6 separate regions of the Homo sapiens genome follow, and all the other regions are linked to region 3. The links come from fine-mapping of genetic effects on gene expression. A gene starts in region 3. Each other region holds a variant in brackets. All regions are shown on one strand. Distances are from middle to middle. Region 1 overlaps MEIKIN (meiotic kinetochore factor). Region 2 overlaps RAPGEF6 (Rap guanine nucleotide exchange factor 6). Region 3 holds the start of ACSL6 (acyl-CoA synthetase long chain family member 6). Region 4 overlaps RAPGEF6 (Rap guanine nucleotide exchange factor 6). Region 5 overlaps RAPGEF6 (Rap guanine nucleotide exchange factor 6). Region 6 overlaps RAPGEF6 (Rap guanine nucleotide exchange factor 6).

The links. PIP is the estimated chance that this variant, and not a neighbour inherited with it, causes the effect. A credible set is the group of variants that fine-mapping cannot tell apart.
Region 1: its variant is the best candidate, but not a certain one, in a credible set for the expression of ACSL6 in esophagus muscle (GTEx, PIP 0.77).
Region 2: its variant is the best candidate, but not a certain one, in a credible set for the expression of ACSL6 in sigmoid colon (GTEx, PIP 0.57).
Region 4: its variant is the best candidate, but not a certain one, in a credible set for the expression of ACSL6 in whole blood (TOPMed, PIP 0.65).
Region 5: its variant is the best candidate, but not a certain one, in a credible set for the expression of ACSL6 in whole blood (TOPMed, PIP 0.81).
Region 6: its variant is the best candidate, but not a certain one, in a credible set for the expression of ACSL6 in whole blood (INTERVAL, PIP 0.50).

Annotation. Positions count from the first base shown.
Region 1 is chr5:131,904,361-131,908,449 of GRCh38, reverse strand. All of the region lies in intron 8 of MEIKIN (meiotic kinetochore factor), which reads left to right. Among named protein-coding and RNA genes, the nearest start is that of MEIKIN, 39 kb to the left of the region's middle. The variant A/TA (reference allele first, on the strand shown) is at 1,911.
Region 2 is chr5:131,594,087-131,598,175 of GRCh38, reverse strand. The region is part of intron 3 of RAPGEF6 (Rap guanine nucleotide exchange factor 6); the gene reads left to right. Among named protein-coding and RNA genes, the nearest start is that of RAPGEF6, 39 kb to the left of the region's middle. The variant C/TTGTC (reference allele first, on the strand shown) is at 2,332.
Region 3 is chr5:132,009,560-132,013,648 of GRCh38, reverse strand. ACSL6 (acyl-CoA synthetase long chain family member 6) reads left to right here and starts at 1,991. Exons shown (of 21, transcript NM_001009185.3): 1 at 1,991-2,144. The coding sequence starts at 2,096. It overlaps LOC124901062 (a long non-coding RNA gene), which reads right to left and starts at 2,193. Exons shown (of 2, transcript XR_007058933.1): 1 at 2,104-2,193.
Region 4 is chr5:131,568,816-131,572,904 of GRCh38, reverse strand. The region is part of intron 4 of RAPGEF6 (Rap guanine nucleotide exchange factor 6); the gene reads left to right. Among named protein-coding and RNA genes, the nearest start is that of RAPGEF6, 64 kb to the left of the region's middle. The variant C/A (reference allele first, on the strand shown) is at 1,572.
Region 5 is chr5:131,553,381-131,557,469 of GRCh38, reverse strand. All of the region lies in intron 5 of RAPGEF6 (Rap guanine nucleotide exchange factor 6), which reads left to right. Among named protein-coding and RNA genes, the nearest start is that of RAPGEF6, 80 kb to the left of the region's middle. The variant G/A (reference allele first, on the strand shown) is at 2,062.
Region 6 is chr5:131,603,937-131,608,025 of GRCh38, reverse strand. It overlaps RAPGEF6 (Rap guanine nucleotide exchange factor 6), which reads left to right. Exons shown (of 28, transcript NM_016340.6): 2 at 3,333-3,403. Among named protein-coding and RNA genes, the nearest start is that of RAPGEF6, 29 kb to the left of the region's middle. The variant T/A (reference allele first, on the strand shown) is at 2,217.

The DNA of each region.
Region 1 (4,089 bases), 110 kb after region 3:
ATATTGGCTTTTATTATATTGAGGTATGTTCCTTCCGTACCTACTGTTTTGAGAATTTTTATCATGAACGGATGTTGAATTTTATCACGATTTTCTAGCATAATTTAAATGATCATATGGTTTTTTTCCTTTATTCTGTTGATATGATGTATCATATTGATTGATTTGCATAGGTTGAACCATCCTTGCGTCCCTGGGGTAAATCTCACTTGGTCTGGAAGAATGATCTGTTTAATATGTTGTTGAATTCAGTTTGCTATTTTGTTGAGGATTTTTACATCAGTATTCTTCAGAGATATTGGCCTATAGTTTTCTTTTTTTGATATGTCTTTGTCTGGTTTTTGTATCAGGGTAATACTGATAGCATTGAATGAGTTTGTCAGTATTCCTTCATCCTCTATTTTTTGGAACAGTTTGAGTAGGATTGGTATTAGTACTTCTTTAAATATTTGGTAGAATTCAACAGTGAAGTCACTAGGTCCTGGAATTTTCTTTACCAGGAGACTTTTTATTATAGCTTCAATCTTGTTACTTGTATTGTCCTGTTCAGGTTTTGGATTTATTTATTTATTTATTTTGAGACGGAGTCTCACTCTGTTGCCCAGGTTGGAGTGCAGTGGCACAATCTCAGCTCACTGCAACCTCTGACTCCCGGGTTCAAGTGACTCTCTTGCCTCAGCCTCCTGAGTAGCTGGGATTACAGGCGCATGCCACCACGCCCGGCTAATTTTTGTATTTTTAGTAGAGATGGGGTTTCACCATGTTGGTCAGGCTGGTCTCGAACTCCTGACTTCGTGATCCGCCCACCTTGGCCTCCCAAAGTGCTGGGATTACAGGCGTGAGCCACCTGCCCGGCTCAAGGTTTTGGGTTGCTTCATGGTTCAGTCATACTAGATTGCATATGTCTACTGGCATGTAGTTGCTCATAGTAGATACTAATGATCCTTTGAATGTCTGCAGTATCAGTTGTAATGTCTCCCTTTTCATCTCTGATTTTATTTAATTGGGTTTTCTCTCTTGTTTCTTAGTCTGGCTACAGGTTTGTCAGTTTTTTTTTTACAAGAAACCAATTTTTTGTTTCATTGCTTTTTTGTATTGTTTTCGAATTCATTTGTTTCTGCTCTGATCTTTTTTTTCTACTAATTTTGGGTTTGGTTTGCTCTTTTTTAGTTCTTTTAGATGCATTGTTAGGTTGTTTATTTGAAGTTTTTATTCTTTTTGATATAAGCATTTGTAACTGTAAATTTCCCTGTTAGTACTGCTTTCACTGTAGCCTGTAGGTTTTGGTATGTTGTATTTCCATTATGATTTGTTTCAAGAATATTTTCAGTTTCCTTCTTAATTCTTCATTGACTCACTAGTCATTCAGGAGCATATTGTTTAATTTTCATGTGTTTGTTAGTTTCCAAAATTCCTCGTTATTTTTTATCTTTTATTTTAGATTCAGGTGTAAACATATCTAATTTGTTATGTAGATAAATTGTGTGTCTGTTACAGTAGTTTGGTGTGCAGATTATTTCTTCATCTATGTAATAAGCATAGTACCTGATAGGTACTTTTTCAATAGTCACCCTCCTCTCACCCTCAAGTAGGCCCCAGTGTCTGTTGTTCCTTCTTTCTGTCCATATATACCCAATGTTTAGGTCCCACTTATAAGTGAGACTGTGCAGTATTTGGTTTTCTGTTCCTGTATTAGTTTGCTTAGAATAATGGCCTCCAGATTTATCTGCGTTACTGCTGAGGACATATTCTTATTCTTTTGTATGACTGCATGGCATTCCATGGTGTATATGTACCACATTTTTTTTCTCTAGTCTACCATTGATGAACATTTAGGTTGATTCCATGTCTTTGCTATTGTGAATAATGCTGTGATAAATATGTGCTTGTATGTGTCTTTATGGTAGAAT[A/TA]AGTTATATTCCTTAGGGTATATACCCAATAATGGGATTGCTGGGTCAAATGGTAGTTCTGTTTTTAGCTGTTCGAGGAATTACCACACTGCTTTCCACAATGGTTGAAATAATTTACACTCCCACTAACAGTATATAAGCATTCTGTTTTCTCTGCAACTTTGTCAGTATCTGTTACTTTTTTACTTTTTAATAATAGTCATTCTGACTAGTGTGAGATGGTATCATTGTGGTTTTGATTTGCATTTCTCTAATGATTAGTGATGTTGAGCATTTTTGCATGTTTGTCGGTCGTGTGTATGTCTTCTTTTGAAGAGTGTCTGTTCATGTCCTTTGCCCACTTTTTAATGGAATGGTTCTTTGCTTATAAATTTGTTTAAATTCCTTATAGATTCTGATATTAGACCTTTGTGAGATGTATAGTTAGCAAATATTTTCTCCCATTCTGTAGATTATTGATTCTGTTGATAGTTTCTTTTGCTGTGCAGAAGCTCTTTAGTTTAATTGGGTCCCATTTGTCATTTTTGCTCTCATAGCAATTTCTTTTGGCGTCATTGTTATGAAGTCTTTGCCATGTCCTTTGTCCAGAGTGGTATTTCCTAGGTTATTTTCCAGGGTTTTGATAGTTTTGAGTCTTAGATATACGTCTTTAATCCATCTTGAGTTAATTTCTGTTTATGGTGTAAGGAAGGGATCTCCAGTTTCAGTCTTCTGCATATGGCTGGCCAGTTATCCCAGCACCATTTATGGAATGGTCCTTTCCCCATTGCTTGTTTTGGTAGATTTGTCAAAGATCTGGTGGTTATGTTTGGGTTCTCTATTTTGTTTCTCTATTGGTCTGTGTGTTTATCCATTTCTTCTAGGTTTTCTAGCTTGTGTGCATAGAGGTGTTTATAATAGTCTCTGAGAGTTTTTTGTATTTCTGTGGGGTCAGTGGTAATGTCTCCTTTGTCATTTCTAATTGTGTTTATTTGGCTCTTCTCTTTCTTTTCTTAATCTAGCTAGTGGTCTATCAGATTAATTCTTTTAGAGAAGTAGCCCCTGATTCATTGATGTTTTGTATGTTTTTTTTCATCTTAGTTTCCTTTAGTCTGATTTTGGTTATTTATTGTCTTCTGGTAGCTTTGGGGTTGATTTGCTCTTGTTTTTCTAGTTCCTCTAGTTGCGGTATTAGGTTGTTAATTTGAGTTATTTCTGACTTTTTGATGTGAGCTTTTAGTGCTATAAACTTCCCTCTTACATTGCTTTGGCTATGTCCCAGAGAGTCTGGTATGTTGTATCTTCTTCCTCATTAGTTTCAAAAAAGTTATTGATTTGTGCCTTAATTTCATTATTTACCCAGAAGTCGTTCAGGAGCAGGTTTTTAAAATTTCCATTTAATTGTATGGGGTTTTTTTCACTTCTTTAAAAATTATACTTTAAGTTCTGGGATACATGTGCAGAACGTGCAGGTTTGTTACATAGGTATACACGTGGTGGTTTGCTGCACCCATCAACCCTTCACCTACATTAGGTATGTCTCCTAATGCTATTCCTCCCCTATCCTCCAACCCCCCGACAGGCCCTGGTGTGTGATGTTCCCCTCCCTGTGTCCATGTGTTCTCATTGTTCAACTTATAAATGAGAACATGTGGTGTTTGGTTTTCTGTTTCTGTGTCAGTTTGCTGAGAATGATGGTTTCCAGCTTCATCCATGTCCCTGCAAAGGACATGAACTCATCATTTTTTATGGCTGCATAGTATTCCATGGTGTATATGTGCCACATTTTCTTAATCCAGCCTATCATTGATGGGCATTTGGGTTGGTTCCAAGTCTTTGCTATTGTGAACAGTGCTGCAATAAGCATACGTGTGCATGTGTCTTTATAGTAGTATGATTTATAATCCTTTGGGTATATACCCAATAATGGGATTGCTGGATCAAATAGTAGTTCTGATTCTAGATCCTTGAGGAATCGCCACACTGTCTTTAATACTTTTACACTATTGGTGGGAGTGTAAATTAGTTCAATAATTGTATGATTTTGAGCAATTTTCTTAGCAGTTATTTCTATTTTTATTGCTCTGTGGTCTGAGAGAGTGGTTGGTATGATTTCATTTCTTTTGAAATTTGCTGAAGATTCTTTTGTACCTGACTTTGTGATCAGTGTTTGCCATGTGCATATAAGGAGAATGTGTAT
Region 2 (4,089 bases), 420 kb after region 3:
GTTTTTCAATTCTAGATTTTCATTTCTGTTTCATAGATACCAGTTCTTTGGTTGAATCCATCATCTGTTTTCCTTTTTTCTTGAACGTAATAAATATAGCAGGTTTTTTTTCTGTTGGTTTTAGGTTATTTGGTCTCATTTCCAGCAATGTTGATACTTTTTTTAACTTTTTAATCGACACATTATAGTTGTGTATATTTATGGAGTACAAGTTGGTATTCCAATACAGTTATGTGTTATATAATATACAAATTAGGGTAGTTAGCATATCCATCACCTCATACATTTAATCATTTTTTGGTGGTGAAAACATTCAAAAGCCTCTCTTCTAGCTATTTTGTAATATACAGTACTTTACTGTTAACCATAATAATCCTACTGTGCAATGGAACACCAGAATTTATTTTTCTTATTTTGTTGTAACTTTGTACCCACTACCCAACCTCTCCTCATCTTTCTCTCCCACCTCCCCACTCCAGTCTCTGGTAACCACAGTTCTACTCCACTTCTATGGTATCAACTTTTTATTTTTTAGATTCCACGTATAAGTGATATTCTGCAGTATTTGCCTCTCTATGTCTGTCTTATTTCACTTAACATAATATCCTCCAGTTCCATCCATATTGCTGCAAATGACAGGATTTCATTCTTTTCATGGCTGAATGATACTCTATTGAGTATATATACCCCATTTTCTTTATCTGTTCATTCATTGTTGGACACTTGGGTTGAGTCTGTATTTTGGCTATTGTAAAATATGGGAGTGCAGATATTTCTGTAACATACTGATTTCATTTCCTTTGGATATGTATCCAGTAGTAGGATTGCAGGATTACCTAGAAGTTCCATTTTTTTTTTTTTTAGTAACCTCCATATTGTTTTCCATAATAACTACTAATTTACGTTCCCACCAACAGTGTATAAGTGTTCCCTTCTCCTGAAATCCTCGCCAACACTTGTTTTCGTCTTTTTGATGGTAGCCATTCTCACTGGAATGAAGTGGTGTCTTGTTGTGATTTGAGTTTGCATTTCCCTGATGATTAGTTTATTTGAATATTTTTTTATATACCTATTGGCTATTTTTATGTCTTTTCAGAAATGTCTGTTGAGCTATTTTGCCCATTTTTAATCAGTTTTTTTTTGCTATTAAGTTTTTTATATATTCTGGATATTAACCCATTGTCAGAGGTATAGTTTGCAATTCTCTCCTATTTCTGTAGGTTGTCTATTCATTTTGTCAGTTGTTTCCTTTGCTGCGCAAAAACTTTTTAGTTTGATGTAATCAGATTTATCTGTTTTTGTTTCTGTTGCCTGTGTTTTGAGGTCTTCGCTTTAAAAATCCTTGCCTAGCACAGTGTTGTATAGCATTTTCCCCTATTTTCTTCCAGTAGATTTCGTGGTTTCAGGTTTCACATTTAAGTCTTTAATCCATTTTGAGTTGATTTTTGTATATAGTGAGAGGTAGGAGTTTAGTCTTATTCTTCTGCAAGGAGATATACATTTTCTAAGTGTCTTTGGCACCTTTTTTGAAAATCAGTTGTCTGTTTAATTCTGGGATATCCATTCTGCTCTATTGGTCTGTTTTTATGTCAGTACCATGCTTTTTTGGTTGCAGTAGCTTTGTAGTATATTTTGAGGTCTATCGATCTGTCCATTGCTGAAAGTAGGGTATTTGCATTCCCTGCTATTACTCTATTATAGTCTGTCTCTCCCTTTATATCTAATGATATTTGCTTTACAAGCTTGGGCACTCCAGTGTTTGGGGTGTGTGTGTTAATATATACTGTAAATATATATATGAGACACAAATATATATTATATAATGATTATATAATATATATTATAAATAATGTAATTGTTATATCTTCCTGTTGAATTGATCCCTTTATCATTATATAATCACCTTTTCTGTCTCTTTTTACAGTTTTTGACTTAAAGTAAGCATGGCTACTCCTGTTTGCTTTGGCTTTCCATTTGCATGGATGTCTTTTTCTATCCTTTAACTTTTTTTTTTTTTTTTATATGATGGAGTCTCGCACTGCTCCCCAGGGTGGAGCACAGTGGTGCGACCTTGGCTCACTGCACCCTCTGCCTCCTGTGTTCAAGCGATTCTTGTGCTTCAGCCTCCCAAGTAGCTGGTATTACAGGCGCGTACCACCACACCCAGCTAATTTTTGTATTTTTTAGTAGAGACAGGGTTTCGCCATGTTGGCCAGGCTGGTCTTGAACTCCTGACCTCAAGTGATCTGCCTGTCTCAGCCTCCCAAAGTGCTAGGATTACAGGCATAAGCCACTGCACCCAACCTCTGTCCCTTAACTTTCAATCTATGT[C/TTGTC]TTTAACAGTGAGGTGAGTCTGTTATACGCAGCATACATTTGGGTTTTATTATCCATTCAGCCATTCTATATCTATTAATTGGAGGAGCTTACCCAGTTACATTCAAGGCTGTTATTTATAGGTAAGGATTTATTCCTGCCTTTGTGTTAATGGTTTTCTGGTTGTTTTATAGATTTTTTTTTCTGTAGCCTTCTTTCTCTCTTGTTCATCTCTGTGGTTTTGTGGCTCACTGTGGTGCTATACTTTGTTTCCTTTCTCTTTCTCCTTTGTGTATCTGCTGTACTTACTTTATGTTTACTATAGAGCTAGCATAAAGACTCTTGTTATAATGCACTATTTTAAGCTGATAGCAAATTAACTTTGGTCTCTGTATTACTCCATTCTCACGCTGTCATAAAGAACTACCTGAGACTGGGTAATTTGTGAAGAAAAGAGGTTTAATTTACTCACAGTTCCACAGGCTTCACAGGAAGCATGAGTGGGAGGTCTTAGGAAACTTACAATCACAGCAGAAGGTGAAGGGGAAACAAGCACTCCTTACCACGGTGAGCAGGAGACAGAGAGAGAATGCGATGGGGGGAAATGCCACACTTAAACCATCAGATCTTGTGGAACTCACTGTCATGAGAACAGCATGGGGGAAAATCTGTCCCCATGATCCAGTCGCCTCCCACCAGGTCCCTCCCCTGACACATGAGGATTACAATTCAACATGAGATTTGAGTGGGGACATAGAGCCAAACCATATTATTCCACCACTGGCCCCTCCCAAATCTCATGTCCTTCTCACATTTGAAAACCAATCATGCCTTCCCAGCAGTCCCCCAAAGTCTTAACTCAATCCAGCATTAACTTAAAAGTCCAAGTCCAAAGTCTCATCTGAGACATGGGAAGTCCCTTCCACCTATGAGCCTGTAAAATCAAAAACAAGTTACTTCCAAAATACAATGGAGATACAGGCATGGGGTAAATGCTCCTGTTCCAAATGGTAGAAATTGGCCAAAATAAAGGGGCTACAGGTCCCATGCTAGTCCGAAACCCAGCAGGGCAGTCATTAAATCTTAAAGCTTCCAAATAACCTCCGTTGACTCCATGTCTCACATCCAGGGCACCCTGAGGCAAGTGGTGGGCTCCCAAGGCCTTGAGCAGCTCTGCCCCTGTGGCTCTGCAGGGTACAGCCCCTGTGGCTACCTTCATGGGCTGGCGTTGAGTGCCTGTGGCTTTTCTAGGCTCCTAGTGCAAACTGTGGTTCTACCATTCTGGGGTCTGAAGGACAATGGCCCCCTTTTCGCAGCTCCACTAGATAGTGCCCCAGTGGGGACTCTGTGTGGGGGCTCCAACCCCACATTTTCCCTCTGCACTGCCCTAGTGGAGGTTCTCCATGAGGGCTCTGCCTCTACAGCACACTTCTTCCTGGACATCCAGGCATTTCCATACATCCTCTGAAATCTGGGCAGAGATTCCCAAACCTCAACTTTTGACCTCTGCGTACCCGCAGGCCCAACACCATGTGGAAGCCGCCAAGGCTTGAGGCTTGCAGCCTCTGATTCAATGGCTTGAGCTATACTGTTGGCCCCTTTTGGCCACACAGTTTTAAACTAGCAAATCTTGTGAGAGCTCACTATCATGAGAACAGCATGCGGTAAATCTGCCCCCAGATGGAGCTGGAGCAGCTGGGATGCAGGGTACCATGTCCTGAGGCTACACAGAGTAGCAGGGTCCTGGGCCCAGCCCATGAATCATTTTTGGTTGGCCTC
Region 3 (4,089 bases):
AAGCTAGAATCAGTCACAGCTCCAGTACTGGTTTTTGAATTAAAATATTCACAAGTAGCAGAGACATCTGTAGGGAGAGTAACGGGATGCGACATCCTGCTGGAGGCCAAGCTAAATGTGTCCCATGACATCACTCTGAAGAGGAGGCTGCCAGAGCCGCATAGGGCCCGGAGTGCTCCTGCAGCTGAGTGCCGCAGAGGCCTGAGGCTTGCAGCCTGGCTCCTGGCCCCCTGCTCTGTGAAGAAATGCTCTGTTGAACCACTGGCCTATGGGGAAATTACCTGACCACCTCCCTAGACCAATCTGGTCTGGGGAGATATGTTCTTTCTGCCCAGGCTTCTGGTTCCCCTGGGTCTCCTCTTCAGTACTAGCAGATCTCCAGTTACTCTGCTGCCAGTGGGAGTGTATGGGTGGGGTGGGGGGATTCTCAAAGCCATGTTACTTGCTGGGAGGAGTCCTGCCATACAGCCTCTGTCACACCCTCTTGGAGGAGCCCTGCCAAGCTTGAGATCCCAGCAAAGTCCCTGCCAGGCTGTGGCTGAGTTCAAGCTGGAGCAGCTCTCCCAGGAGTCCAGATCCTATGATGGAGAAGGTGTAGGATCCTATTGTAAAGATTGGAAGTGACTCAGAGGCACACATCTGCACACTTGCACCACTACAAGGTGCACACAGGCCTGGGCACACACATGCCATGTACTCGTACTACAGATACAGGCCCCCCCACACACCCAGCTGCTGAGCTGTGAGCCCACATGCACTCATGGCTGATGGTCTCTGGTGGGCCTGAAGAGATCTCATGCTCTTCCACTCTCTGCTTCCTGACTTCTGCTCTCTGGTTTTCTATCCTCTTCTTTCTGGGCTGTGGCTCAGCCAGCTCCTGGCCTGGGAGGGCTGCGTATAGAGAAGGCCCGGCTGCCTGAGCGCTGTCCTCGGTGCTGGAGTCCTGGTGGGCTCTGCATGCTTGAGGAAAACAAGCAAGGGCATTGGGAAGAGGTGATCTTGCTTGGAGGTGCAGATGTTCATGGGGTGCCCACCAGGATGCCTACCCTTATTATTTCAGAAAATGTGCAACTGGGCTTCCTCCTTTCAATGGCAGACACTGCAACAGGTGTCCAAGCCCTCAGCCCAGCAGTGTGGGCATCTGTGGCTGTGTGTGGCTATATGGCCATTTATTGTGGCTATGAGGGGCTTCTTGAGACCTCGTGTGCCACATACAGTTGTGTACGAAGATCATGATTTCCTCATGAGACACCTGTGATTCCATGTGGCTGCCTGTGACCATGTTACTACTGGTGAACACATATGGCAGCCTGTGATCACACTGAGTCTCCTGTGACCTTGCGTAGCCTCAGACCTGAACTCGTGCGTCCCCAGATGATCTGGGCACTATCTGGTCTAGCTGCCTGATTTGTCAGAGCCTAGGTGAACACTTGCCACTCCCTCCCCTCACTGGTTTGCAGAGGTGGCACCCGGAGGCTCCCCATGTCTGCAAACTCGGGTCCTAGGGGGCGTTGGTGTCAGCGGGCAACAGCCCACAGGAGTGTGCACCTCCTAGGACAGGTAACCGCGACCCGGCTGCCATTCGAGCCTGCCCAGCCATAAAACCCAGGCTGCGAGTCGCGCGGGGGCAGGGTCGCGTGTTGATGGGGTGGGTGGCGGCGGGGTGGGCTCAATGTCACGCTCTGGCGCTCGTCGCCCGTGCTCCCCCTTCCAGCCGGTTTCCGCAGAATGCCAGGTACTGACGTTGGAGAGCGGGGCCGGAGAGGGCTGGTTCGCTCTGCGGCCGGGCCCCTCCCCCGCCCGGGAGCTTGGCGGTTCCGACACCGCGGTCAGTGCGGGGCAAGCCCCAGACCCGGCCGGCCAGGCTGCAGGGCAGGGAGTAAGGCTCGGTTGCGAGTGCGCGCCGCGCCCTCCCCCTTGAGCCGTCTCCGCAGCGGCGCGGGGAGGCGGGAGCTGCGGGGCCGGAGGGCGGGGGCTAAAAATACCCGGCAGCGGCGGCGGCGGCGCGGCTACTGCTGGGGCTGCTGGGCTGCGGGGCTGCGGGGCTGCGGGTCGGGGAGGCCGGGCCGGGCCGGGCCGGGCCCCGCTGACCGCCATGCTGACCTTCTTCCTCGTGTCGGGGGGCTCCCTCTGGCTATTCGTAGGTAAGTGCCCGTCCTGTCCGCGTCCCGGACTCCCATCTCCCGCAGGCTATGAGGTCTTCGCCCGAGGTGGAGGTGTTACATCTCCGCGGCCGCCGAGCCCCCATCCCCTGCTGCTGAGCTGTCCCGTCAAGGTCCCCAGGGCCGCCTAAGTACACCCTCCGCCCCCAGTTCTCGCGGGCTCCGGGCCGGGTTTGGGGAGCACCTGGGTCTGCGGAGGGAGATATAGGGCTTGCTCTCTGCGACCCCACCACAAACCCCCGCCGAGTTCTTGCGTCCCCCTTCCCTGATGGCAAGGACCATCCGCGGATCAGATTAGGCCCTGAGCCAAGGCCAGGAACAGACATTGCGTCCTTGTCCATCTCCTGGGACCAGAAACCGAGGGTGTTGGTCCCCGAGGTCCCACAGCAGGTCAGCTATGTAACCCGGACTGACCTAGGCTTCCTGATCCCGGCGAGGGGCTTCCTCACGACCCCTCCCTGCCCGTCCTTCAGCCAGAGTACAAGATTTCTGTAAGGTAGGGTTCACCTGGCTCCTCTGCTCTGCCCAGGGCTGCTGTGTCTCCACTGTTTCCAGACCCCTCCCCTCCACCTCACAGGAGTCAGCTTCACCACTGCACTTCTTAGGCGGCTACAAGGACCCCTGCTCGATCCCGCCTCCGCGCTTACCTCCCTCAACCCCCCATACACCCACACCTGGAGTCTCACCACAGGCCCTTTTATCTGCCAGTTCTACCACCTGCACCGGCTACTTCCCCTCTCTGAGCCTGGGGTCCTCCAGAGTATAATACCACTAAAGGATCTCCACCTCCACCCCAACCCCCATGTGCAGATTCAGCCTGATAATTTGTGTGCAGTGCTTGATCCTTAAATTGGCCTTAAACCTGTCCTAGGCCACAGCAAATGCTCTATGAATGTTAGTGTTTATTATTATCTCACATTCAAACAGCACCATCAGAAGTGGTAATAAAGCTTTTTCTGAGCCAAGGAAGGGGAGGAAGTTGACCCTCTTGAAATCTTTACCTGAGGCTTTGTACGTGTTATTTAATATTCATGGAAAACCCTAGGAGGTCGGTGGCACCATCCCTTTTTTTACTGAGTTCAGAGGTCAATTGACTTGCCTAGTGTCACATGGATATTTGGCAGACTGGGATTCCATTCGAGGTTTTAATTGATCAACCAATGCTAAGTGCTTGGCTGGATCAGGCCTGAACCTGGAGGGTTGGTGGGCCTAGTAATCACTTCCTTCACCCCCACCATTTCCTTAAGTTAGGCCACAGGGACACTTCCCCTGAGCTGGGAGAGTGAGTGAAGCCTCCCTAATCCCCTCAGCTCCCTAAGCTCCTTCTGTCTGCCAGTGTCTGTGACTGGCTGTGCAGGGGCACTCTGGTCCTGAGGCACATCCAGCAGACAAGGGCAGGGCTAGAGCTGGGGTTGGAGGTAAAGGGCAAGGATAATTAAAATAATGGTGATGGTGGTCGTAACAGCCACCATTTAATGCCTGAGTGATGGATGGTCTCAGAGCCTCTCCCCACTGCCAGGACCCCTTTGCCCTACCCTCAGGAGGCCCCACCCAACCATGGGTCCAAGGTCAGCTCTCTGAAGACTTGATCTTCTGTGGCTGCAGGGAGGTGTCTAGGGGCTGCAAGACCACTTGTGACCGGGGTCATCAGCAGCCTGTGAGAAAAAGTCCCTCACCCTGTGGGGTCCTTGTCTGTGAGCAGGGTTAGCTGGCACTGACTCAAAGTGGAGTCCTGTTTCCTTGTGGAGCATTTCCTAAAGTGGTCAGCTCCCTCCTCTAATGGGAAACTGGGGAATCTGCCTCACTGAGAGACTATACAGGGCCTCAGAACCGTCAAGCAGGAGCGATTCTTGGGGCAGGTAGTGGCTGCTTCCACAGAGGCCGAGCTTCCCAATGCAAAAAGCAAGAGGCTGAGGCTGGTCTATGG
Region 4 (4,089 bases), 440 kb after region 3:
ATCGAAAGTGCCATTTCTCTGGCCACTTGGAACTATTGTCGAGTTTGTATTGGGGCCAAGTGGTATTACAGAAGAAAATAAGACATTTAGGTTTTAGGTCAGGTGTTAGTTGAAGGGGTTTTAGGTTTTTAAGAACACAGGCTAAGGGGGAAGAGGGAGGAATGGATGGCGGAAGGTTGCCCATAGTGGAGAAGGTAAATTTAAGGACGAAGGTAGAGACATGGAGAAATGGAGATGGGCAGCTACCAGGCTTCCAGTAGGCGTCCCTGACTGAGTCTTGGGCTGTAATGTGGGTGAGCAGCCAAAGCAGGCATGATCAGCCAAAGCAGGCATCTCCACAGTTGACCTGCCACCAAGGGAATGTGGGTGAATGATCAAGGCAGGCGTCCCTGTGGTGATCAGACACCAAGGGAAGATGTGTCTTCCCAAGTCAGTAACCGACGTCAGAGTTTTTAAATGCTCAGATAAAGTGTGTCTCCTTTTTGTCTCTACCTGGAAGGGAGAGAAACTGAAATTGAAAGGAGAGAGATTGAAGGGAGGCGAGAGAGGTTAGGTAGAGAGCGAAAAAACCGCTTACCCGAGTGTGAAGAACCGCTTACCGATTTGAAATTGGTGAGATGGTCCTTGGACTGGCTGGTCTGATGACCCAGGGTCATAGGTGGATCTCCTCACGGAGGGAGCGTGAGGACAGGGGACCGGTCTCCCGAAGGAGTTCCCCTGTCCTGGGTGTTCGGCACCAAATGTTACGCACGTCCATATAAGTGACCACCTGAGCAGGCTTAGTTTGAGCAACAAAGCTGTTTATTCACTTGGGTTCAAGTGGGCTGAGTCCAAGAAAGGAGTCAGTGAAAGGTGGTGGGATTATCATAGGTTCTTATAGGTTTGAGATAGGCGGTGGTGTTAGGAGCAATTTTTTGCAGGCAGGGGATGGATATTACAAAGTACATTCTCAAGGGCTGGGAGGATGTTACAAAGTAACATTCACAAGGGCGGGGAGGAATGTTACAAAGTACATTCACAAGGGTACATTATCACAGGCTGGGGGCGGTGGTGGCGGGAATGTCACGATGGCTTGACCATGGTGTGGCCAGCTCAGAGGACTTACCAGTATGGATCCTCCAACTTCGTAAAAATTGTTTTGGTTATTTGTTTTCATATGTTCTTTGCAGTTCCGTATGATTTCTAGCATCAGTTTGTTAATTAAAAACAAAAACACCTGCTGAGGTTTTGATTGGGAATGCACTGAATCTATAAACCAGTTTAGGGAGAAGTGAACATCTTAATAGTTGATTCTTTTAAACCATGAATGAGGTACATCACTCCATTTATTTAGGTCTTTAATTTCTCTCAATGATGTTTTGCAGTTTTCAGTGTAGAGATATTGTATATGCTGATCTTACATCTTGCAACCTTATTAAATCACTTATTCTAATTGCTGTTTTATATTTTTTTAGTATTTTTGTACGTAAGTGATCTTGTCATCTGTGAATAAACAGCTTCATTTCTTATTTTTGAATAAGAATTTTTGAATTCAGATCTTATTTTGATCTGAATGCCTTTTATTTCTTTTT[C/A]CTTGTTGTACTAGGGGAAAACTATAGTACATTGTTGTGACAGAGTGGAGCAAACATCCTTGTTGTCAATCTATTAATAAAAAGTAGTTGGGGGCGGGGCATGGTGGCTTACACCTGTAATCGCAGCATTTTGGGAGGCCAAGGCGGGTGGATCACCTGAAGTTGGGAGTTTGAGACCAACCTGGCCAACGTGGTGAAATCCTGGCTCTACTAAAAATACAAAAATTAACCCGGTGTGGTGGCATGTACCCAAGCCACCTACTTGGGAGGCTGAGGCACGAGAATTGCTTGAACCTGGGAGGCGGAGGTTGCAGTGAGTGGAGATTGCGCCACTGCATTCCAGCCTGGATGACAGAACCAGACTCCCTCTCAAAAAAAAAAAAAAAAAAAAGTAGTTGGGGATGAAGACGTGGGGAGTTGGAAGCGTTCATTCAGTTTTTCACCAACTGTAATCTTAGCTCTAAATTTTTCATAGATGACCTTTATCTGGTTGCCCCTCTGTAATCTCTACTTTCCACACCTTCTTCATCAGACAACCACTGTTTGGCTTTCTGGAGAGAGAGTATTTTACATATAGAGAGAGTATTTTACTTAAAATTTAATTTTCTGCTATTTTATGTAAATGGAATATGTTGTATAGTTTTTTAATCTAGTTTTTTTCATTTAGCATAATGTTTTTATAGCTCACCCATGTTTTAGCACATATCAATTCTAGCATGTCCATTTTTTAAATTGTTGATACTGCATTTTGTCTATCCATTCAGAAGATTTTAAAAATTGAAAATTTTAGTTTTAATTTGGGGCTGTCACAAAAATGCTTCTATCAAAATTTACATAAAAGTCTTTATATGGCCATGTGTTTTCACTTCTTTATTATAGATATGCAGGAGTAGAATTGCTGTGTTATGTAAGTACATGTTTAACTTCTTGGGAAAAGACCAAATTGTTTATAAAATGACTGTACCATTTTACATTCTGACCACCACTTGGTATTGACAGTCTTTTATATTATTTGCCATTCTGGTGTATATTTAACAGTGTCTTACTGTGATGTTAATTTGTAGTTCAGTAGTGATGAGTGATGTAGGGGGTCTTTTTATGTGCTTACTAGACATTCCTGTATCTTCTTTGGTGAAATGTCTATTCAGACATTTTCTCCATTTTTAAATTGTACTGTCTTATCAAATTGTAAGAATGTATCTATTTTGGATCCAAGTTCTATGTCATATATGTAGTTTTCATATAATTTCTCTCAGTCTCTGGCTTTTTTTTTTTTTTTTTTTTTTTTTTTTGAGACAGAGTCTTGCTCTGCTCCGCAGGTTGGAGTACAGTGGTGTGATCTCAGCTCACTGCAACCTCTGCCTCCCGGGGTCAAGCAATTCTCCTGCCTCAGCCTCCCAAGTAGCTGGGATTGCAAATGCCCACTACTACGCCTGGCTAATTTTTCTATTTTTAGTAGAGATGGGGGTTGCACCACGTTGGCCAGGCTGGCCTCAAACTCCTGACCTCAAGTGATCTGCCCACCTCAGCCTCCCAAAGTGCTGGGATTACAGGCGTGTGCCACCGTGCCCAGCCAGTCTGTGACTTCTTAATAGTGTCTTTTGAAGCATAAAACTTTAATATTGATGATATCTACTTTAAGGTTTATTTTTGAGAATAGAGCTTTTGGTGTCATAGCTAAGAAATCTTCAACCTCACGATTATTTCATCTTACAGTTTTTTCTAAAAGTTTTAAAATTTAGTTCTTACATTTTGGTCTGTGATCCATTGTGAGTTAATTTTTTGTTTTGTTTGTATATATATATTTTTGCATATGGATATTTGCATATTCATTTTACCTAGCATGGTTTATTGAAAAGGCTGTTTTTTTCCCCATTGAATTGCCTTGGTACCTTTGTTGAAAATCAGTTAACCATAAATATGTGTGTTTGTTTTCTGTACCATTTGTTCTGTCTCCTTTAACTATTTTTCTGTCTTGGTACCAATCCTGACTGTCTTGATTATTGTAGCTTTATTGTAACTTCAAATCCAGTAAGTCTTACAACTTTGTTCGTTTTTATAATGGCTTTGGCTATTTTAGGTTTTTGTATATTCATATACATTTAAGGATTTGCTTGTCAATTTATACCGTAAAGCCTGTTGGGGTTTTGATAGGAAATGATTTGAATCTATAGATTAATTTGGGGAGAATTGCAGTCTTAACTATATTGTGTTTCCAGCCTATGAACATGGCTTGCTTCTGCATATATTTATCTTTTATTTCTTTCAGCAATATTTTGTATTTTTCAGTGTATAAGTCTTACACTTTTGTTAAATCATTTCCAAATATTTTATTCTTCTTAATAGGATTATGAATGGAATTGTATCTTAATTTCATTTTCATATTATTCATTGCTAGTATATAGAAATACAGTTGGTTTTTGCATATTGATCTTATATCCTGTGACCTTGATATAATCTTTTATTAGATCTAGTAGTTTATATTTGTAGATTCCTTAGAATTTTCTACATGCAGGAT
Region 5 (4,089 bases), 460 kb after region 3:
GTGTGAACTTTTGAAATTTATGTCATTTCAACAAGGTCGTTGGATACTCGTTCATACATAAAAATCAATTGTATTTTTCCTTACAAGCAAGTAGAAAATTGAATTTTATAAACGTACCATTTATAAACATCAAAACCATCTATATACATCAGATTAAATCTGAAAAAAGTTGTAGGAGACCTTTACACAGAAAACCTTAAAAAGTTGTTTTTAGATCTTTTTAAATCAGTTGAGACAATATTTTTAAGATACAAATTATCTCAAAATTTGTCTAAAATTTAGTGCAGTCCCCATCATAATCCCAGGATATTTTAAAAATGGGGATAAAGGAATTGATCTGTAACATATGTCACATAAGGGAAGAAGAATATATTTACAAAAACTGTATGAGAAGTACTTAAGCTGGGTGTTGTGACACACGTCTGCAGTCCCAATTATTCCTGTCTGTGAATAGCCACTGCACTCCAGCCTGGGCAACATAGACTCCCGTCTATAAAACCAACAAACAAAACACTTAAGATTAAACTTAACAAATGTGCAGAAATAATGTGTTTAAATACCCCTGAAATAAAAAAATTAAACTTGAACAAAAAAAGAGATACCATGTTCTTAGGTATGGAGTTACCATAGTAAGGATATTACTTTTTGTTAGTTTACCTTATGAATATAATGAAATCCCAGTGAAATATGCCATCAAGTATAGTGTTTATTTTGTGTTTTGCATTTTGTGCCATTTAAAAGAATAAAAAAAGCAAGGAGAACTAGAAGAAACCTGAGAAAGAAGAGCAATTTTAGGGGAGCCATGTAAATCTTTTTATGTACTAAAAGCAATTCAAAAGGAGAAAAAATTTACTCTTCCCCCCAAAAAACAAAATAAGTGATTTTAATATATGTAAAATTTTGGTATAATTCCATGAAGAATTATTATTTCTGGTGACTTTAAGACACAGTATTTTAACTGTACATTCCTAATGTAGTATGTCTCATTGTTGGTGTTACTAGGAGCCAGTTGTCTCATTGTTGGTGTTACTAGTGGTCTTTTCTTCTTCTTATTATTATTTTTGAGACAGAGTCTTGATCTGTTGCCCAGGCTGGAGTGCAGTGGCATGATCTCGGCTCACTGCAACCTCAGCCTCCCGAGTAGCTGAGATTACAGGCACACACCACCACTCCCAGCTAATTTTTGTATTTTTAGTAGAGATGAGTTTCACCATGTTGGTCAGGCTAGCCTCAAACTCCTGACCTCAGGTGATCCACCCACCTCGGCCTCCCGAAGTGCTGGGATTACAGGCGTGAGCCACTGAGCCCAGCCTACTAGTGGTCTTTTTACAGTTTTCCATACAGTCCTGCACTGCTGGTTATGACTGATCACATGTATGACAATGGTTCCATAAAATTATAATACTGTATTTTTACTGTACCTTTTCTGTGTTTCGATACACAGATACTTAACATTGTGTTATAATTGCCTATGGTGTTCAGTACAGTAACATGCTTTACAGGTTGGTAGCTTACGACCAATAGGCCATACTATATAGCCTAGATAAGTAGTAGGCTATACTGTCTATGTGTAAGTGCACTCTATGATGTTCACACAATGACGAAATTGCCTAACAACTAGTTTCTCAGAACGTATCCTTATCGTTAAGTGCACATGGCTGTATATGTGTGTATATAGACGCACGTTATATGTAACTAATTATAATTAATTTAACATAACACATATACATAAATCTATACATATATAAATATTAGTATCCAAGATGATGTAACCAGGATGTTAGTGGTAATGTTGATTTTGTTAATTTAAAGCAATTATATATGTATAGGTAATATTTATGTGTATATTATGAAAAATTCTGTATGATACATTTAATTGGAAATAATTGAAATTTATAATTATAGTTAATATAACTAATAGATGCATAAATAAATGTCATTAGTAATCAAGATTTTTATTTTAGCATAAGAGTTGTGTAAAATTAAAGATGTTAAGAAAAACTCCAGTCTAAAATGTCAGTAGGAAATGTCAGCATTGACACGACTATTTTTTTCTTAAAA[G/A]TATTTACCAAATTATTTCACCTTAAGAAAAAAAATGTGTTTCCTAGGGTTGTTCATTGCAAAAGTTTAGAAGCAGCGATATCCAAGTAGTTAAAGCATTCCTAGTGGTTATAGAGCTCAGATTTTGATGATAATGAGTAGGTACCATTTCCCCTCTAAAAGGATAACAAACCTTCGTTAAGTTAATGATTTATAGCAGATGTGGATACCAAGAAATTTATTAGATTGGGATTTCCTTCACTAGGAAGCAGAGAAATATTTAAAATTATTGGGCTTCTCTCAAAAATATCAGGATTCTGTGAACCTTAATACTTGGGGTCTGTTTCTTCTTTTTCTATATTTGACATGAGATTCTTTTTTACCTGGAAAGACTTTTCTATTTGTATTCATTGTGATTGCTGATAGGTTTGAATTTACTTTCACCACATTATGTGCTTTTTATTTGTTCTTGTTTTTTCCCCTCTTTTTTTTATTTTCCCTCCTTTATTTTAAGTTCTTTTTTCCTTCCTCTCCTCCCCACCATATTCTTGTAGAAATGGTGTTTGGTCTCTTCTTTTAGTGCTAATTCTGACTATTTTTAAATTCCTACTTAGGCCAGGCACAGTGGCTCCCTCCTGTAATCCCAGCACTTCGGGAGGCCAAGGCGGGTGGATCACCTGAGATCAGGAGTGCGAGACCAGCCTGGCCAACATGGTGAAACCCCGTCTCTACTGAAAATACAAAAATTAGCCAGGTGTGGTAGGCGCCTCTAATCCCAGCTACTTGGGAGGCTGAGGCTGGAGAATCACTTGAACCCGGGAGGTGGAGGTTGCAGCGAGCCAAGATTGTGCCACTGCACTCCAGCCTGGGCAACAGGGTGAGATTATGTCTCAAAAAAAGAAAACCTATTTAAAAACACCTGAGGCTAATAAGTAGCTAAACTGATAAGAATTTAATGCTAGTATCCAGATGTAATTCCTATTGTCCAGTATTTTAGCTTTATGTATTCTGTAAATCATTATTTATTCCTATTTAACCACGTATTTAATATTTTTTGCTTTTAGTTCTTTCTTATATATGAGACCGTCCTAATAGTAACACTTGTATTATGTTTAAAGTACACCCATTAAAAATTCTTTCCTGAAGATCTTCTGTTAAGTCTCTCAGGTATTTTTTCTTTTTTGTCTGAAAATAACTTTATTTTTCTTCATTCTTGGAGGATTGTTTTGCCATTAATACAACTTTAGGAGGAGAATTATTTTTATTAACACAATTAATACATTCTATTTTTTTACATTCATCGTATTTTGAGGAGTCAGACATTAATTGCCTTCCTGATCTCTTTTTTCTTTCTGGCTGCATTAAAAGTCTTCTGTTTATATTTTCTCTGTAATTTGGTATCGTAGTTTTTCATTATCCTCTTTTGGATTTTTTGGACTGCTTTGGGCATCAAAAATTCTTTTTTTCCTTAAATATTGTCTTGTTCTATCATCTTCTTGACATTTTTTTTTTCAACCTTTCCTCTTAGCTTTCTTATTTTTTACCTCTTCATGATGACTTTGTGCTGTATGTTGAGTAAGTCTTCTGGATTTATCTTCCCAGTTTACTAACTCCCTTTTTAGTTGCATCTTAATATACCATTCAGTTCCTTCATTTTTCTTATTTAACTCTTTTCCTCTTTCTCTTTGGTAATTTTATTGTCCTATGTTTAATTTCCTTGATCTTAACTCAGTTGTGTTGAGTCTGCCAATGAGCATGTCAGAGACATTCCTCATCTCTATTACTACGTCTTTTGTTTCTAACATTTTCATTTTTATTTTATATTTTTATTTTGTCTGCTAAAATTATCAATCTGTGTGTGTTGTCTATACCTTTTCCAGTGAACCTATAACATGTTTAATCATAGTTGATTGAAGTTCTCTCTCTGGTAGTTCCAGCATCTGGATCCACTCTAATTCTTGTAGACTGCTCTGTTGATTGCTTTGTCTCTTGGTTTTTGTTTTTTGTTTTGTTTTACCTTTCCTTTTTTATGTGAGTTATAATTTTGGA
Region 6 (4,089 bases), 410 kb after region 3:
AAGAATCAGTCTTAGTTCAGGACTACTACAATGATTTTTTCAGGTGGATCTTTACTTCACTTTAGATATTTCCGGATGTCCTATCTTATGAAAAACGTTTTATATATTTGTCTTTTTTGTTGTTGTTTTTAGTTGTTTTAGGTGAAGAGTAAGTCTAGTTTCTTTTATTTTATCTTGACCTAAAGCCAAAGTCACTTCGACATTGCAGGAGGTGTCCTGACGTGCCCCCAACCACTGTATCCCGAAAAACTTCACTGAAATGGCATATCTTTTGAGTCTTCATAGTGTTTATCTCCCATTTTCTGGAGCCGCATGTGTGTTACCAAGGACTCTAAGGGTACCAGTCACCTCTAGCCTATTCTTTTATTCATTCTGTCCAATCAGCATGATGTAATATATGTAAATAGATCAGGAGGTTTAGATGTCTGTCCCCCACCCAACCCCCACTGACTGTGTTATGACAGAGAGCGGAAGAGTTAAGAGTCCTAAGATAAAACTGTAAGTTAATATTGCCTTGCATGGATGCAGATTTTTTTCTGATCTTCTAATTGGAATGGAAAGTAAAGTAATGGAAAGTAACACCACATCAGTATTTGAGGCTTAATCAGCTTCAGCAGCAATATTATGGCTGAGACTGCAGGCTGTGATTAGGGCTAGAATTTGGTTCATTCTGTGGTAGTCTGCACAGTCATTTTTTAGGATCTGTCTGCTTTCTCCATAAATTAAATAGAATACAATAGAAACTATTACCTCTGCGTACTTCTGAGTCTTTACTGGTGGCACTAGTCTTTATTCTGTGCCCCTCTGGAAGAAATAGTCTTTTATTTACTGTCTTGTTCTGGGGAATGGGGCAGAGGTTTCCACTTGGCTTTTTCCATTGTGACGGCTTTTACCACACAGGTCATGGACCCATTATTTAGGGTATTCTAACTGCCAAGTATATAAATTCTAATTATAAACTGAGGGAGTGGGGAATGACCATTATTAGGTGGATCTGCAGACTCAGTGGACCCACTGTGAGCCACACTTTTGCCATGACTCTCTTTATTACCTACATTCAGCAGGTTCTGGCTGAGTGGTTGGTGCTTTTACCCCGTAGAGCCTCAATTGGGATCATTCTTTTAGTTCCATTCAATTGGTAGCTCTAAGCTGCTCTAGGAAGGCATAACTTACATATCTAGTACCTTGGTGTTATTCCATGTGGCCTTTCTGCCTCCCTAAGGCTAGCTGGAGCTTCCTCACAACATTAGTGGTCTCAGGGTGCTTGAATCTTTTATACAACCTCACTTCTATCGTATTCTTTTGGTCAGAACAAGTCACAGAGCCAACCCACATCTGTGGGGAGGGCACATAGATTCCAGGTTTTGATGGGTAACTGGCAAGACTGCATTGCAAAAGAGCATATGGGATAAGAAATACCTCTGTGGCCATCTTTGGAAATACAGTTTACCATATCAGTGCTTCATCTGCTATCTGCTAAAATTTGGTAGACCTTTCTTTTAACCTATTCAAATCTTTATTTTTATATACTTAAATATCTTTTTCACTGTTACTTTAGTAAGGATTTAGCAGAAATAAATGTGGTTGTTCAATTCACTGTGGTTAATTGACAGTTGTTATCTTTGGAATTAGAGATTATTGCCTTTTTTTTTTTTTTTTTTCCCTTGAGATGGAGTCTCAATCGCCTAGACTGGAGTGCAGTGGTGCGATCTCGGCTCACTGCAACTTCTTCCCAGGCTCAAGCCATCCCTCACACCTCAGCTTCCTAAGTAGCTGGGACTACAGATGTGTACCACAAGCCTGGCTAATTTTTTTAAATTATTTTTTGTAGAGGCAAGTTTCACCATGTTGCCCAGGCTGGTCTCTAACTCCTGGGCTCAAGTGATCCACCCACCTTGGCCTCATACAGTGCTGGGATTACAGGCGAGAGCCACTGTGCTCAGCTTGATGCTTTTCTTTTCTTTTCTTTTTCTTTTTTTTTTTTTTTTTTTTTTTTGAGATGGAGTCTCACTCTGTCACCCAGGCTAGAGTGCAGTGGCACAATCTCAGCTCACTGCAAGCTCCGCCTGCCGGGTTCACGCCATTCTCCTGCCTTAGCCTCCCGAGTAGCTGGGACTACAGGCACCTGCCACCATACCCGGCTAATTTTTTGTATTTTTAGTAGAGATGGAGTTTCACTGTGTTAGCCAGGTTGGTCTTGATCTCCTGACCTCATG[T/A]TCCGCCCGCCTCGACCTCCCAAAGTGTTGGGATTACAGGCGTGAGCCACCGTGACCAGCCTAGCTTGCTGCTTTTCTTAATGGCTCCGTGTTGTCTTATTAACCTACTAGAAAACAAGTTGTCTTTAGTTTCTCCCCCAGTACCCCCACTACTATCTGATAATTTTCTTGGCCAGTTGTATATCAGAGTGGGAAGGCAGTGTTTGGAAGTAGTTTGCCCTGGTATAAAGGCATTATTCCTCATAGGAAATAGGAAGTATGTTTTTTATAGCGAATTTAAGCTTGTCTGCTTTTTATTTTTTATTTATTTATTTTTTATTATACTTTAAGTTTTAGGGTACATATGCACAACGTGCAGGTTAGTTACATATGTATACATGTGCCATGTTGGTGTGCTGCACCCATCAGCTCGTAGCTTGTCTGCTTTTAATCTTAAATGACATCAGTGGTACAATACTATTTGCTGTTAGGGATCTATAGACTCTTTCCACTTTCTTCTGCTATGCCACTGCTCTTAGTTGAGGTTATACTATGTCATCTTGAGGTTTTTGTTGTTGTTGTTGTTTTAATGCCTAGTTATCTGGGTGAGGAATAGAGAAAGATGTTCTACCTCTTTCACAGAGTGAACAATAGGATTGTACCATTGGAAATCTTTTTTATTTAGTGGTAGATTATGTCATTTTGAGTCTCTTTAGAAAGAAATTCTTTAGAAAGTCATATTTTAAGAGGAATATTGATAAACTGGGTCATCTCTAGAGATGTCAGCCAGGATATTGGATATCAAATATTTGGAGGCCACTAAAGAAGGAAAGTTTACATCTGCTTAGAAGTGAAATAATGAATTAATATACTTTCATATAAAATAATGAATTTGGGGTTCTGGCATTGTTTGAATGAATAGAGGCCATTGGTCACGTTGAAGAGGAGTTCCTTTGAGAGCTGAGGGATCTCTTCTCTGCCTTTTCAAATCTTTTATGATTCAGAGGTTTTATGATTTTTCCATAGTTAACTGCTTTGCCATAAGTGGTTGTTTGCTTAAAATCAGAATTGTGGGGTGCCTTATATTTTAAACAGCATATTTGAAAAATAATCTAATTTTTTTCTTCTGTTCCACAGGACTTAAATACTATTTATTCTTATCTTCATGGAATGGAAATATTATCAAATCTCAGGGAACATCAGCTTAGGTAAGTGTCGTTCTGTATTTAAGAGCACACGCTGTATAGCCATTCATTCATTTATTCACCAAATATTTGTTAAGCACCTTTATATTCCTTATTGTTTTAAGCCCTTGGTATATGCATTATAGATTAGATCCCTGGTTTCCTGGAGTTTATATTTTGGTAGGGGTGATTTTGGAGTTGGGGAAAAACACTGACAATAAAAACTGAATTTGTTTTTCTTATTCAGTTTTTCTTAGCCATGGGACCTTAAGTCAGAACTAACCTTTAACTGTGGTTTTGTCTTCAATAAAATAGGGGTAATGATAGTATCTTTGTTGAAGTATTTCAAGGATTAAATGAAAATAAGTACCTAAAGCAAAACACAGTGTTGAGGTTGTGCTAGTTAGTAAAGACAAAACTCCTGTTATCTTTTTGTAGTTTGTGTTGATATTTATTATGCCAAATGCTTCAGCTGGGTATGGTATGTTGTATTATAGTGTTGTATTATACAAGTGAAAGGAGCAGGAATCTTGATTTGGCCTAAGCTCCTGTGGAGAAAACCCATAAACTTTCTGAACCTTGTTTTTTTCTTCTGAAAAATGGGCTGGCTATCTGTCCTGGTTATCATATATCATTATGATTATATTTATAAAAACACTTTCGAGTGCTATAAAACACTTAACTATATAATATTTTAATTAAACATGTGT